2 separate regions of the Homo sapiens genome follow, and region 2 is reported to be linked to region 1. Evidence: microRNA targets listed by miRTarBase, many of them from high-throughput screens and not tested one by one. Region 1 holds a microRNA gene; the other region holds the end of a gene's coding sequence.

Region 1 (8,194 bases):
GGCCCCTGGACTCCACCATCCAGACTCTGCTGATAGTGCCCACAACTGAGTCTAGCCGGAATCTCATCGTGAAGACCAAGGCTGCTGGGGCAGACCCAGGCCTCGGGGCCCCGTGGGCGAGCCGGCTCAGGACTCGAGGTGAGGGAGGTTGGCGGGCATGGCTGGGGCAGCTTCTGTGCAGACCCCACCCACCTCCCTCCCGGGCCTGCTGTTCCTTCCGGCCTCACCTTGAGCAGACCCATGTGCACGAGCAGCCTGGTGAGGAAGGTGTTGGAGTTGAAGGACGAGGAGTTGAAAGCCTTCTGCATCAGGGCATCTGTAGGGCAGAAGCAGCAGGGGCAGGCTGCTGGCTATGGCAGAGGGCTGGGCCAAGGCACCCAGGGTTCCCCCAACACCGCGCAGACACAGGCTCGCCTGCCTCCTCGCCCTGACGAAGAGGCGAACACGAGAGGGACGGCAGAGACACAGGAACCAGAGGGAGTGGCAGTTGGCATCAGGGGATGGGCTCAGTCCATCTGCCAGCTGTGACACTCTGGCCCTTGCCCATCCTGGCCTCAGGTATAAAATGGGCATGGGGATGACACCCACTGTGCCCACCTCACACCGTGGGAATGGAGATTTCCTGAGGCAGGCTACCACTGGGGAGGATTCAGGTTATTTTGGCAGGGTGAGGGGATGTGCAGGGACTGTGCTAGGCTTCCTGGGAAACAGAACTAGGGCAACTTGTTCCCAAAAATGCCCACAGGCGGGCCCTCAGGGAGCAGGCTTGTGTCTGGCCCCCACCTCCTTCCGAGCCTCATTTCCCACTGAGCCGCCCTCCCCGCTTCGACGCCACGCCGGGAAGAGGCACCACATGTCCTTCCACCCCTTTCTATCTTTTCCAGGAACCGTCCCCCTCGCCTCAGGGCCCTTCCTCCCCTCTGCCTAACCGGAACTGGCTCAGGTTTCGTTAGATGTGGAGGCTCAGTCAAGCACATGGAAACAGGGTGGAAGGTGACAGGTGCTGGAATGGAGGAAACAGACAGGGTGGGGAGAGGGTTGTGATAGGGCTGGAGGGATATGGGCTGGTGCTCCAAGGAAGCCCCCATAATGTTATGGGGAAAGGTGTCCTCTGTGCAAGGAACCTCCAGGTAGAGTGGACGTGAGCACAGAAGCTCCAAGGTGTGGACAAGGGCTTGGCTCTCACCATCCCTCCTCCCGATAGACCTGCGTCCATTGGGCTTGCAGATGTGACTATCTGGACTTCCTAGAGCGGGCTATGGGTTCTAACTGTACATGGCTGTGTGGATTTGGGAAAGGCCTCAGTTTCTCAGTGGTGAAAAACAGGGAGAAGAGCAGCCAGCTGGCTCCACGGCAGGACCCTGACGGAGGAAAAACTCAGGTGGCCAAAGAGCAGTTCCCATGAGAGCGCTGGGGCTGACGAGTTACGGCAACCACGAAGGATACCTGGGGCCCACGAGCATCAAGGGACAGAGGGCACCCAGGTCTCACCCAGCCCACATTACCTACTGCATCCTGCACTGCCATCCTCACAGTAGCTTCGTCCTTGAACACAGATGACACCTTTAGGAAGGCAGAGACCACCTTCTCGGGGTCAGACGTGTCAGTCTGAGGACAAAAGAGACAATGGTTGGCCTGTGGCACGTGGTGGAGAGGTACCTGGGCTCTGACGCTAGCTAGGAGAGGCCTGGGCAGTACAAAGGCCCCTGGCGGGCAAGAACAGGTCCTGCCTTACCCCATGCTGTCCCTTCAGAGTCTGGCTTGGATTTGGCCTGCAGCAAGCACATATGCAGCATAGAGAGGGAATGAATGAGTGAATGAACAAGGATGAAAAATCATCCCAGCCGGGTGTGGCGGCTCATGCCTGTAACCCCAGCACTTTGGGAGGCTGAGGTGGGAGGATGGCTTGAGGCGAAAAGTCTGAGACCAGCCTAGGCAACATAGCAAGACCCCATGTCAACAAAAAGGAAAAAAATTAGCCAAGGTTGGTGGTGTGTGCCTATAGTCTCAGCTACTTGGGAGGCTGAGGCAGGAGGACTGCTTGAGCCCAGGAGGTCGAGGTTGCACTGAGCCATGATTGCACCACTGCACTCCAGCCGGAGTCACAAAGCAAAACATTGTCTCAGAAAAAAAAAAAAAAAAATCATTTCAGGGATCCAGTGGTCCCCATCTTGTAATTGAACTTGAAGAAATAATCTAGCATGTAGACAATACTCACATGCAGAAACGTTTACCTCAACCTCACAACAGGGAAAAGTGGAAAAAACGTCAGAAACAGTGCCTGGCTTTTAAGTGCTACATCCACACATTGCAATAAAAATCCTGAGAAGAGTTTTATGGGCACAAGAAAGTGATGAATGGTGCTACACCAAAGTGATAGGCCACAGAAAGGCTTACAACATCTGATTTATCATGTTAAAAGAAACAAAGAATACAGGCAAAACCTAACAAAGCAATTGGCCGAAATGTTAAGCCAACTCTGAGAGTGGGCCCATTTTATTTCTCTGTAACCTCCGAGCCTCCGCTTTCTTATCTACAAAATAAGGGCTGGCCGGGCACGGTGGCTCATGCCTGTAACCCTAGCACTTTGGGAGGCCGAGGTGGGTGGATCATGAGGTCAGGAGTTTGAGACCAGCCTGGCCAACGTGGTGAAACCTCGTCTCTACTAAAAAATACAAAAATTAGCTGGGCGCGGGAGGCTGAGGCAGGAGAATTGCTTGAACCCAGGAGGCAGAGTCTGCAGTGAGCCGAGATCGTGCCACTGCACTCCAGCCTGGGCGACAGAGTGAGACTCCATCTCAAAAAAATAAATAAATAAATAAATAATAAAATAAAGTAAGGGCAGCAGAGTCTACATTTCATGTTGCCAAGAGGGTTAAATAAAATCATGCCCAAATGCAGTGCCTGGCAGAAAATGGATGCCCCGAAGATCATCTATGAATGAATGAATGAGCCAACCAACAAGTGAGGCTGGAGTGAGGGCACCCATCCTGCAATAGGCACGTCACTTCCAAAGGAGCCCTGGGCAACAGAGTTGTTCTCGAAGCAGCTGGGCTGACGGAACACGCAGAGAGAAGCCAAGGAGGGGGTGGGCACATGCAAGGCTCTTAAGGAAATTCCCTAACCCCAGTCAGCATGGGAACTGGCGGGCTGTACTTTCTGTAGGCTGAGTGGGGAGGGAACATTTGCAACCCCTGGAGGCTTATAAATACCCTGGACATTTGCGCGTGTTGTAACAGTGGCAGGCCAAGCCTCCCTGCCCCCAGCTGACAGCGTCGCACCCCCAGGTCTCTGAGCTGTTCGTCCCTTTTCTCTAACAGCTCCAGAAGCCACAGCACGTACAGCGTGGGGGTCGAGGGGTGGTTATTACCTGCTGGGCTATCAGCACGGAGCTCTTGGGCCCTAGGCGCAGCAGCTTCTCTGGAGAGGGAAAAGCCAGGAAGGTGGAGACGTCTGCAGGAGGTGGGGAGGACAGCACGGGAGCTGGCTCCTGGGAAGTAGGGGCACAGAGGCTCTGGAGAATTCCGGACCCCAGACTCCCCGACACAGCTGTGCCCATCCCCACACCCAGCACATCCACCCTTCACTCCAGCCCATCTAGGCTCAAAGTCTAGAATTCTTCCTCCCACTCAGCTGCATTTCCCATCTATCAATATCACCCAGAGATGCTGGCCCTGGATGGCTCTTGGTCCAGGAGCCTTTGGGGTGAGGGGGAAGCTACCTCCCTGGGACTCAAAAAACCTGCTACGGCCAAGTGGATCCTCGTCATGACATGCAGTGCCCCAGAAATGACTACGGAGGCACATGGGGGCTAAAGTGGGTCCCCGTAGAACTACAGTCCAGCCTGGGTAAGCCCTGCTAGCACCAGAGGTGCCCAGAGGAAAAACTGAATTGAGGCGAACCTAGCCATTTGTTTAATTGATTCCATAAACCAGAGAAGCAGCCCAATTCAGCGTAAGCATGGGGAGTCCTTGTCCAGAGCCAAGTTCTCCAGGAGCTTTACTTAGGAACCTGACAGGGAATGCAAATGAATGAACTGGAGGTGTGGCAGCCCTGATGCAGCCCCGGGCCAGACAAGGGACACCAAGTGCCCAAGCCAGGTCATGGCCCAGCCACCATCCCAGGAATGGGGGAGTGGTTCCTAAGGGTCACCAAGACAATCCTCTGGTGGGTGGGGAAAAAAAAAATCAGAATTTCTATTTATGCTTATTTGTTTATTCTTTCAGAAACCCTTATGCATATCTTATAATATACATAATGCAGCAGCACTGCTACCTGTAAATAGACATTTATATTGGGGTAAATAGAAATATAGGTAACTATGGCTGGGCCCGGTGGCTCAATGCCTGTAATCCCAGCACTTTGGGAGGTCGAGGAGGGTGGATCACCTGAGGTCAGAAGTTCAAGACCAGCCTGGCCAATATGGCGAAACCCCGGCTCTACTAAAGATACAAAAATTAGCCAGGCGTGGTGGCAAGCATCTGTAATCCCAGCTGTTTGGGAGGCTGAGGCATAAGAATCACTTGAACCCGGGAGGCAGAGGTTGCAGTGAGCCGAGATCACACCACTGCACTCCAGCCTGGGTGACAAGAGTGAGACTCCATCTCAAAAAAAAAAAAAAGAAATATAGGTAACTATCATTACACTGGGACCATTTTCCTTTTTTTACTCAATATCATGCAATCAAAAAAAAATGTTTGTGGCTACTGTGCTTAAGGAGACACCCCCTACCCCATTGTGAAAGTGCCTCGGGATTTCACGTTCTCAGGACCAGGGCTCTGATTGTGGCAGATGATAGAAACTCACCCCAGTGTTAGGGTCCAGAATCTTCCGTGAGGGCGTGGCTGACTTCTCTCCCTGCCCTCGCTGCTGAGGCTCTTCTTCCTCCTCCTCCTCCTCTTCTTCCTCCTCTTCCTCATCTTCCTCCTCCTCTTCTTCTGCTTCCTCTTCTTCCTCTTCTCCTTCCTCCTCCTCCTCCTCGTCCTCGTCATCACTGCAGAAAGAGCTGGCTGAAGCAGATCCTCTCTACCCAGCAGCCCAGGTTGGCTCTAAGGCCTGGCTCCATGAGCCCAGAGACCTCACCTCAGCCAGGAGGGAGAGAGCCTGGTGGGGTGGGAGCACCTGCTCCCAGGGCAGGGGCAGGTGGATCACCAGGGAAATCCATGCTGTGGACACAAAAAAATAAGATCGGCCCGGCGCGGTGGCTCATGCCTGTAATCCCAGCACTTTGGGAGGCCGAGGTGGGTGGATCATGAGGTCAGGAGATCGAGACCATCCTGGCTAACGTGGTGAAACCCCGTCTCTACTAAAAATACAAAAAATTAGCCGGGTGTGGTGGCGGGCGCCTGTGGTCCCAGCTACTCAGGAGGCTGAGGCAGGAGAATGGCGTGAACCCTGGAGGCGGAGCTGGCAGTGAGCCGAAATTGTGCCACTGCACTCTAGCCTGGGCAACAGAGCGAGACTCCATCCCCCACAAAAAAACAAAAAAAAAAAACAAAAAAAAATCAGATCTTGTCCCTGTCCTCAAGGAGCCCCAGGTTTCATGGAGAGACAGAAAACGAAGACAGCTTTGTCACACCTAGAGCCCAGGGCTTGGCAGGAACACTGCCCAGGTTGAGATGCCAGGGCAGGGGCGCCCACATCCACATGACCTCAGGAAGCTACAGGTGTGGGGGAGGAAGAAGAGTAGGGGTGTCCTTGCCCCATAGGAAGGCTGGACCATTTCCCAGGGACAGTGGGACCTGTGAGGTTCAGCCCACCTCGGAGTCCCCAGTTCCTAGCCTCAGCTCAGGGCCTAGCACCGAGGAGACACGACTGAGTATCTGACACACGAATGAGGCCGACTTGGAGATGCGAGGGGCACAGGGAGCCCGATGCTGATGGCCCAACCGGACTTGGATCCAGGAGATGGCCACTCCCCGGCCACCCACCTTCACCTCCAGGTAGACTCCCCAGGCCCCATGGTCTCTTCCTTTCTAGAGTCAGCGTCTTAAGAACAATCCCGAGTGCAGCCCCTTCTGGCTGCCCCCACCTCCCACCCCCATCACTCCCCAGGCCCCACCACATCAGGATGAGATCTGGCCTCACCCCTTCAGAGGCCTCCCCAACTCCACCACTCTACAGGGTGGCCCCGCTCAGCCCGTACGAGCTCCTCTGTTGAACGGACAACTCATTCTGTCTCCACCCCACGAGACAGAAGCCCTGACTGTCCCATCCTTATAGCCCTGATGCCTAGTGTATGACCTAGTACGTAACAGGAGTGCACCCAACGTTTCTGAATAAATACAAGTAGAAACAAATAAAGGGGCCAGGTGTGGTGGTGGGTGCCTGTAATCCCAGCTACTTGGGAGGCTGAGGCAGGGGAATCACTTGAACCCAGGAGGTGGAAGCTGCAGTGAGCCGAGATCACGCCACTGTACTTTAGCCTGGGGAACAGAGCAAGACTCCATCTCAAGAACAAAAGAAAGAAAGAAAGGAATGGCCTGACCCCGACCTCTGGGGCCACCCCGAGTTCCCTACCTGAGGGACGCCAGCACCTTGGCCATGTTGAAGCCCTCCAGCACCTCCTGAAGCTGTTCACAGCCTTCTTCTCCCAGGGTGTTGCCTGCTCAAGGGGAGGGAAGAGCAGTCAGCCGGGGTGCCAGGGCCAGCCTAGCAGACCTGTGCAGAGGCCTCCCCCATCCGACTACCATTCAGGTCCAGCTTCTCCAGCTCAGCTTTGTCTGCCATGGCCTCAGCAACAGCCAGGGCAGCATCCCTCTTGATTTCACAGAATGACAAGTTCAGCTCCTGAAAATAAGAGGAAGGGTTGGAGGCAGGCAGAAACCCGGGCCAGGACACCAGGTTCTACTCTAAGCCTCAGTTTCCCCAAGTGAGGATATGGCAGGCTCTGTCCTCCAGGTGGGGCAAAGTGGGCAGGAAGAATAACACCAACAACAAAAATAATGCCCTGCAGCCAACGATGAGTCACGTACTGTGTTTACTTAAATCACAAGACAGTGATGTACACCACTCCCTGCCTCCCGCTTTAGAAATGAAGAAACCATGGCTCAGAGGGGTGTGGAGGCTCACACAGCATCACAGGGCCCGAAGTGGAGGAGCTGGGATATGGACACAGGCCCACCTGCCTTCAGACCAGACCCCTGTGCCCCCAGCCGCCCCACCACCCACAGACCCCAGAGGGAGGACGTCAGGCGTCCAGGCTGGCACCTTTAGCTTGGGCAGGCCGCCGCGGATGGCATCTGCAATGGCAACTGCACCCTTGGAGCGCACCAGGCAGTCCCCAAAATTAATCACCTCCACCTGCCGCAAGGTCTTCAAGGTCTGTGAGGGGGAAGCAAGGGTCCAGAGTGAGGGTGCAGACCACACCCCAGCCCTCAGCAAGCCCCGGGGGCCCCACACGGTCACATCCCAAGCCAGCCACCACACACTGTCCTCCTCTGCAAGTCACCAGCTTTGCCGTCTTCTACTTGTTGGCCTCTGGGCCCCTGGCCAAACCTCCTCCACCCCTCCCCATGTTACGGCCAGAACTCTTCCTGAGACCAACCAAGCAAGGTTCCTGCTGAGCATCCGGGTCTTCCACACGTAAGCTGATCCCTCTGCCTGAAACACCCATCCCCCACCCTCTGTCCAGAGAAAGACCACTTGCCCTATACAACTTAGCCAAAATGTGATCTCTTCCAGGAAGCCTGCCCTAAGTCTGATTTGAACTTCCTTCTGGCGTGTTCCCCAACACCTGCACACATCTCTGCTAACACACAGGCAGCCGGACTAGCCTTCTGTGGGGCCACGGGACCCTGGCAGCCAAGAAGCCACTGCGTTCAGAGCCCAGCACTGTTACCACTGGCAGCTTCCTTCCCTCCTTGAGCTAGGGTCTCCCTGAAGGCGGGGTCTTTGGCTCAACCCCATGTGGCCTGCACTTGGTACAAAGCCAAGCACTAAATGGGGACTCAAAAAACAGCTGCTGGGCCAGGCACAGTGGCCTGCACCTGTAATCCCAGCTACTCAGAAGGCTGAGGTGGGAGGATCACTTGATCCCAGAAGTTCAAGACCAGCTTGGGCAACAGTAAGATTCCGTCTCAAAAAGTGATAATAAATAACAAAACAAACAACAGCTGCTGAACAAATCAACCAGGAAAACAGATGTGGGGAGCAGTCTGCTCCTGTGCAGCCTGAGAACAAACCAGCGGCAGCC
Region 2 (3,000 bases), not on the chromosome of region 1:
TGCTGGTGTGGAGTGAGATAGAAGAAGGGATGGGTGTTGAGTAACTGAGATGGTGGCTGAGGGTTGGAGCCCCAAGGCAAGGGACAGACTGCCCCCAAGGTTGAGGGCACTGTCTGCCAGGATGGGGGTCCAAGGAGGTCTCGGGCCGCCCCCACCCCGTCTTGTGTCCATAGCCGACTATATCGTGCTGCAGTTCGGCCGCGTGGCGGAGGACGCCTTCACCCTAGACTACCGGTACCCGCTGTGCGCCCTGCAGGCCTTCGCCATCGCCCTCTCCAGTTTCGACGGGAAGCTGGCCTGCGAGTGACCCCAGCAGCCCCTCAGCGCCCCCAGAGCCCGTCAGCGTGGGGGAAAGGATTCAGTGGAGGCTGGCAGGGTCCCTCCAGCAAAGCTCCCGCGGAAAACTGCTCCTGTGTCGGGGCTGACCTCTCACTGCCTCTCGGTGACCTCCGTCCTCTCCCCAGCCTGGCACAGGCCGAGGCAGGAGGAGCCCGGACGGCGGGTAGGACGGAGATGAAGAACATCTGGAGTTGGAGCCGCACATCTGGTCTCGGAGCTCGCCTGCGCCGCTGTGCCCCCCTCCTCCCCGCGCCCCAGTCACTTCCTGTCCGGGAGCAGTAGTCATTGTTGTTTTAACCTCCCCTCTCCCCGGGACCGCGCTAGGGCTCCGAGGAGCTGGGGCGGGCTAGGAGGAGGGGGTAGGTGATGGGGGACGAGGGCCAGGCACCCACATCCCCAATAAAGCCGCGTCCTTGGCCAAGCGGAGCGGTGGTTCCTCAGCGCGTGCGGAGAACGAGGCGGCAGGAGGCGTCCGAGGCGCGAGCTGGAAGTCTCAACCCCCGTCCCACTCCTGCCCAGGCCCCGGGCGCTCCCGCGTCCCCTCCCCGCGCCCGTCGCGGGTCCTACCGAAACTCGGCGGCCGCACAGCGTCGAGACGCCCCCCGTGGGGGCCCGGGGAGCCGGGGCGAAAGGGAGGGTCCCGGAGGTCGGGGAAGAGGGAGAAAGGGAGAAGAAATTCGAGAAACTAGCCACGCGGGGAGAACCAGACAAACCGGGTCCCGGCAGGGCGGGCGCAGCCGCCAGGGCGGAGCCGGGTCTGGGGCCCCGGGAGTGGGGGGCAGGCCCGCGAGCTGGAGGGTACGCTCCGCCTTGGCGGCTCGGGACTAGGGTGGAGGGGCCGGGAGCCCCGGGGCCCGTGCGCTCCGGCTCTGCCGGGCTCCTCGTGACGCGGCACCCACGGCCCCCGGCACCGACGGGAGCCCTGCCCGCGAGGCGAGGGCTCCGCCCTCGGCCCCGCCCCAGGCCGGAGCCCCAAATTCCGGCGGGTGCCCGGGAGCGGGGCGAGGCCCGGAGCGCAGGGGGAGGAAGGCAGCTCCGCACGGGCGGGCGAGGAGCGGGGCGCCCAGGCGCGCGCCAGCCGGGGTGGCCGGGTCGCGAGGCCGCGGGGTAGGCGGCCCGAGCGCGGCTGGACGGCCCCGCCCCTCCCGGCCAGCACCGCCCCCTGCGCGCCCCGCCCCCTCCTTCCCGCAGCCCCCACCCCCGCCCCGGCTCCTCAACACAAACTTTCCGTCCCGCTCGCTCCCTCCTCCGCGCTCGGCGCCTCCCGCTCCAGCCCGGCTCATTCCGCACATTCCGGCCAGCCCCCTCCCCACGACCCCCCTTCCCCGGCCCCCCTTGCGGCTCCCTCGGGCCCGGCGGAGCGGCCCGGCCGGAGCGCCCCCGCGAGCTCGGACCAGGTAAGCCGGGCGGACGCCGGGAGGAGGCCCCGCTCGGGAGAGGTGGTTTGGTTGGTCGGCTGGGCTGGCTGGGGGGGCGACACTCGAGGGGGACTGGGTCCCCGAGCTATTGTCCAGCCGGAGCTGGAGCCCCGGATCGGGGTGCCGGGAAGTTTAGAGGGAAGGGGGAAAATCTCTCCGGGAAGCCCCGCCCCCCGCCCTCCCCACCCCCCCGCGACGGGGACGAGTTGGTCCGGGAAGGTGGGGAAGCCGGGGAGACCGTGTCCCCTGTGCCGTCGCCTGTCCCGCCGTCCGTGCTTGGGGGGTCGGGGCGGGGATCCGGGGGCCGCACAGTGTGGAGGGCCTGCCTGCCACCCTGGAGCTCATATCCGGGGCGCCCAGTCCCGGGCCCCGCCGCCCTTTGGACTCCCGGCCCGCGCGCTCCCGGAGCCCGCCCGGCCTCAGCTCCACGCAGGCCTCGGGCCCGGCCTCCCAGCGCCCAGGCCGGTTTCTGCGCGCGGTGCCGCGGCTGCGCTGGGTTGTGGAGGGTGTCTGGGACCAAAGCCGCGCGCCCCGGCCGTGTGTCCCCTGAGAGGCAGGGAGGGGCTCACGTTCCCTTCAGTTCTGCCGCCTGCGTCGGGGTGCTGATTCAGAGTTCCAGCCCTGAGCGCTGTGAGCTTGGCTCGGAGGGGTCTGGATTTGGGGCCTTTTCTTCCCCACACTTGCTCAGGGCCCTTGTTTAGACTTGACAAGGTTTGAGGGTGGCTGGTCTCCCGCTTCCTACCCCGGTCCCCACCATTGTCTGTCATGCCCTTTATTCCTGCTAGGGGAGGGAGGGCTGGGAGCGCTGGTCTGGATCTGTTTTCCAGCCCAGCTGGGCCCTGGGGCAGTGTCATTGAGACCCCGCTCTGTCAACTTTCCTGGTGAGGGGCCCTGATCCAGGGCTGAGAGATTCTTTCAGTGCGAGGGGGAAGGAGGCCTTGGGGCGGACTTCTCAGGGGCTGTCTTCTTCTGTGTCTTCCCTCTTTCCAGGTAGGGGCAGAACCAGGTCAGGCCTGGACTTGTTGTCCGGAAGAACAGGGCATAGGGGTAGGGGCTGGACACAGCTCAGAGGGGCTGGTGCCCATAGCGGCTCTGCGTATCCAGTCTCTTGTGGCCTGGTTCTCTGTACACATGTTCCACCCCAGTGCTGGGGCCACCTGGGGCAAGGAGGGGAGGCTTTCCTCAAAAGTTGGAGATTTGGGGGAATTATGTCCTCTCCCTTCTAGACTCCTGTAGCCCCCCT

Evidence for each region. The annotated mature microRNA hsa-miR-6889-5p reads UCGGGGAGUCUGGGGUCCGGAAU and lies in region 1 at 3,522-3,544, opposite strand. An mRNA with a match to its seed (bases 2 to 7 or 8) in the 3' UTR can be bound and repressed. Matches are read on the target gene's strand: a 7mer-m8 pairs with bases 2 to 8, a 7mer-A1 pairs with bases 2 to 7 and ends in A, and an 8mer does both.
Region 2: miRTarBase lists TULP1 as a target of hsa-miR-6889-5p. Seed matches in the 3' UTR shown: 7mer-m8 at 583-589 and 7mer-m8 at 645-651.

What each region holds. Positions count from the first base shown.
Region 1 is chr22:41,249,502-41,257,695 of GRCh38, forward strand. It overlaps MIR6889 (microRNA 6889), which reads right to left and starts at 3,549; the gene lies at 3,491-3,549. It overlaps RANGAP1 (Ran GTPase activating protein 1), which reads right to left. Exons shown (of 16, transcript NM_002883.4): 8 at 7,210-7,323; 9 at 6,690-6,789; 10 at 6,520-6,604; 11 at 4,807-4,993; 12 at 3,371-3,490; 13 at 1,506-1,608; 14 at 228-316. RefSeq lists enhancers at 6,876-7,419, 7,420-7,963.
Region 2 is chr6:35,495,634-35,498,633 of GRCh38, reverse strand. It overlaps TULP1 (TUB like protein 1), which reads left to right. Exons shown (of 15, transcript NM_003322.6): 15 at 174-760. The coding sequence ends at 307. TEAD3 (TEA domain transcription factor 3) reads left to right here and starts at 1,555. Exons shown (of 13, transcript NM_003214.4): 1 at 1,555-1,736. LOC124901309 (a long non-coding RNA gene) reads right to left here and starts at 501. Exons shown (of 2, transcript XR_007059561.1): 1 at 427-501. RefSeq lists enhancers at 1-648, 649-1,579, 2,526-3,000 and silencers at 1,048-1,377, 1,388-1,517, 1,698-1,747.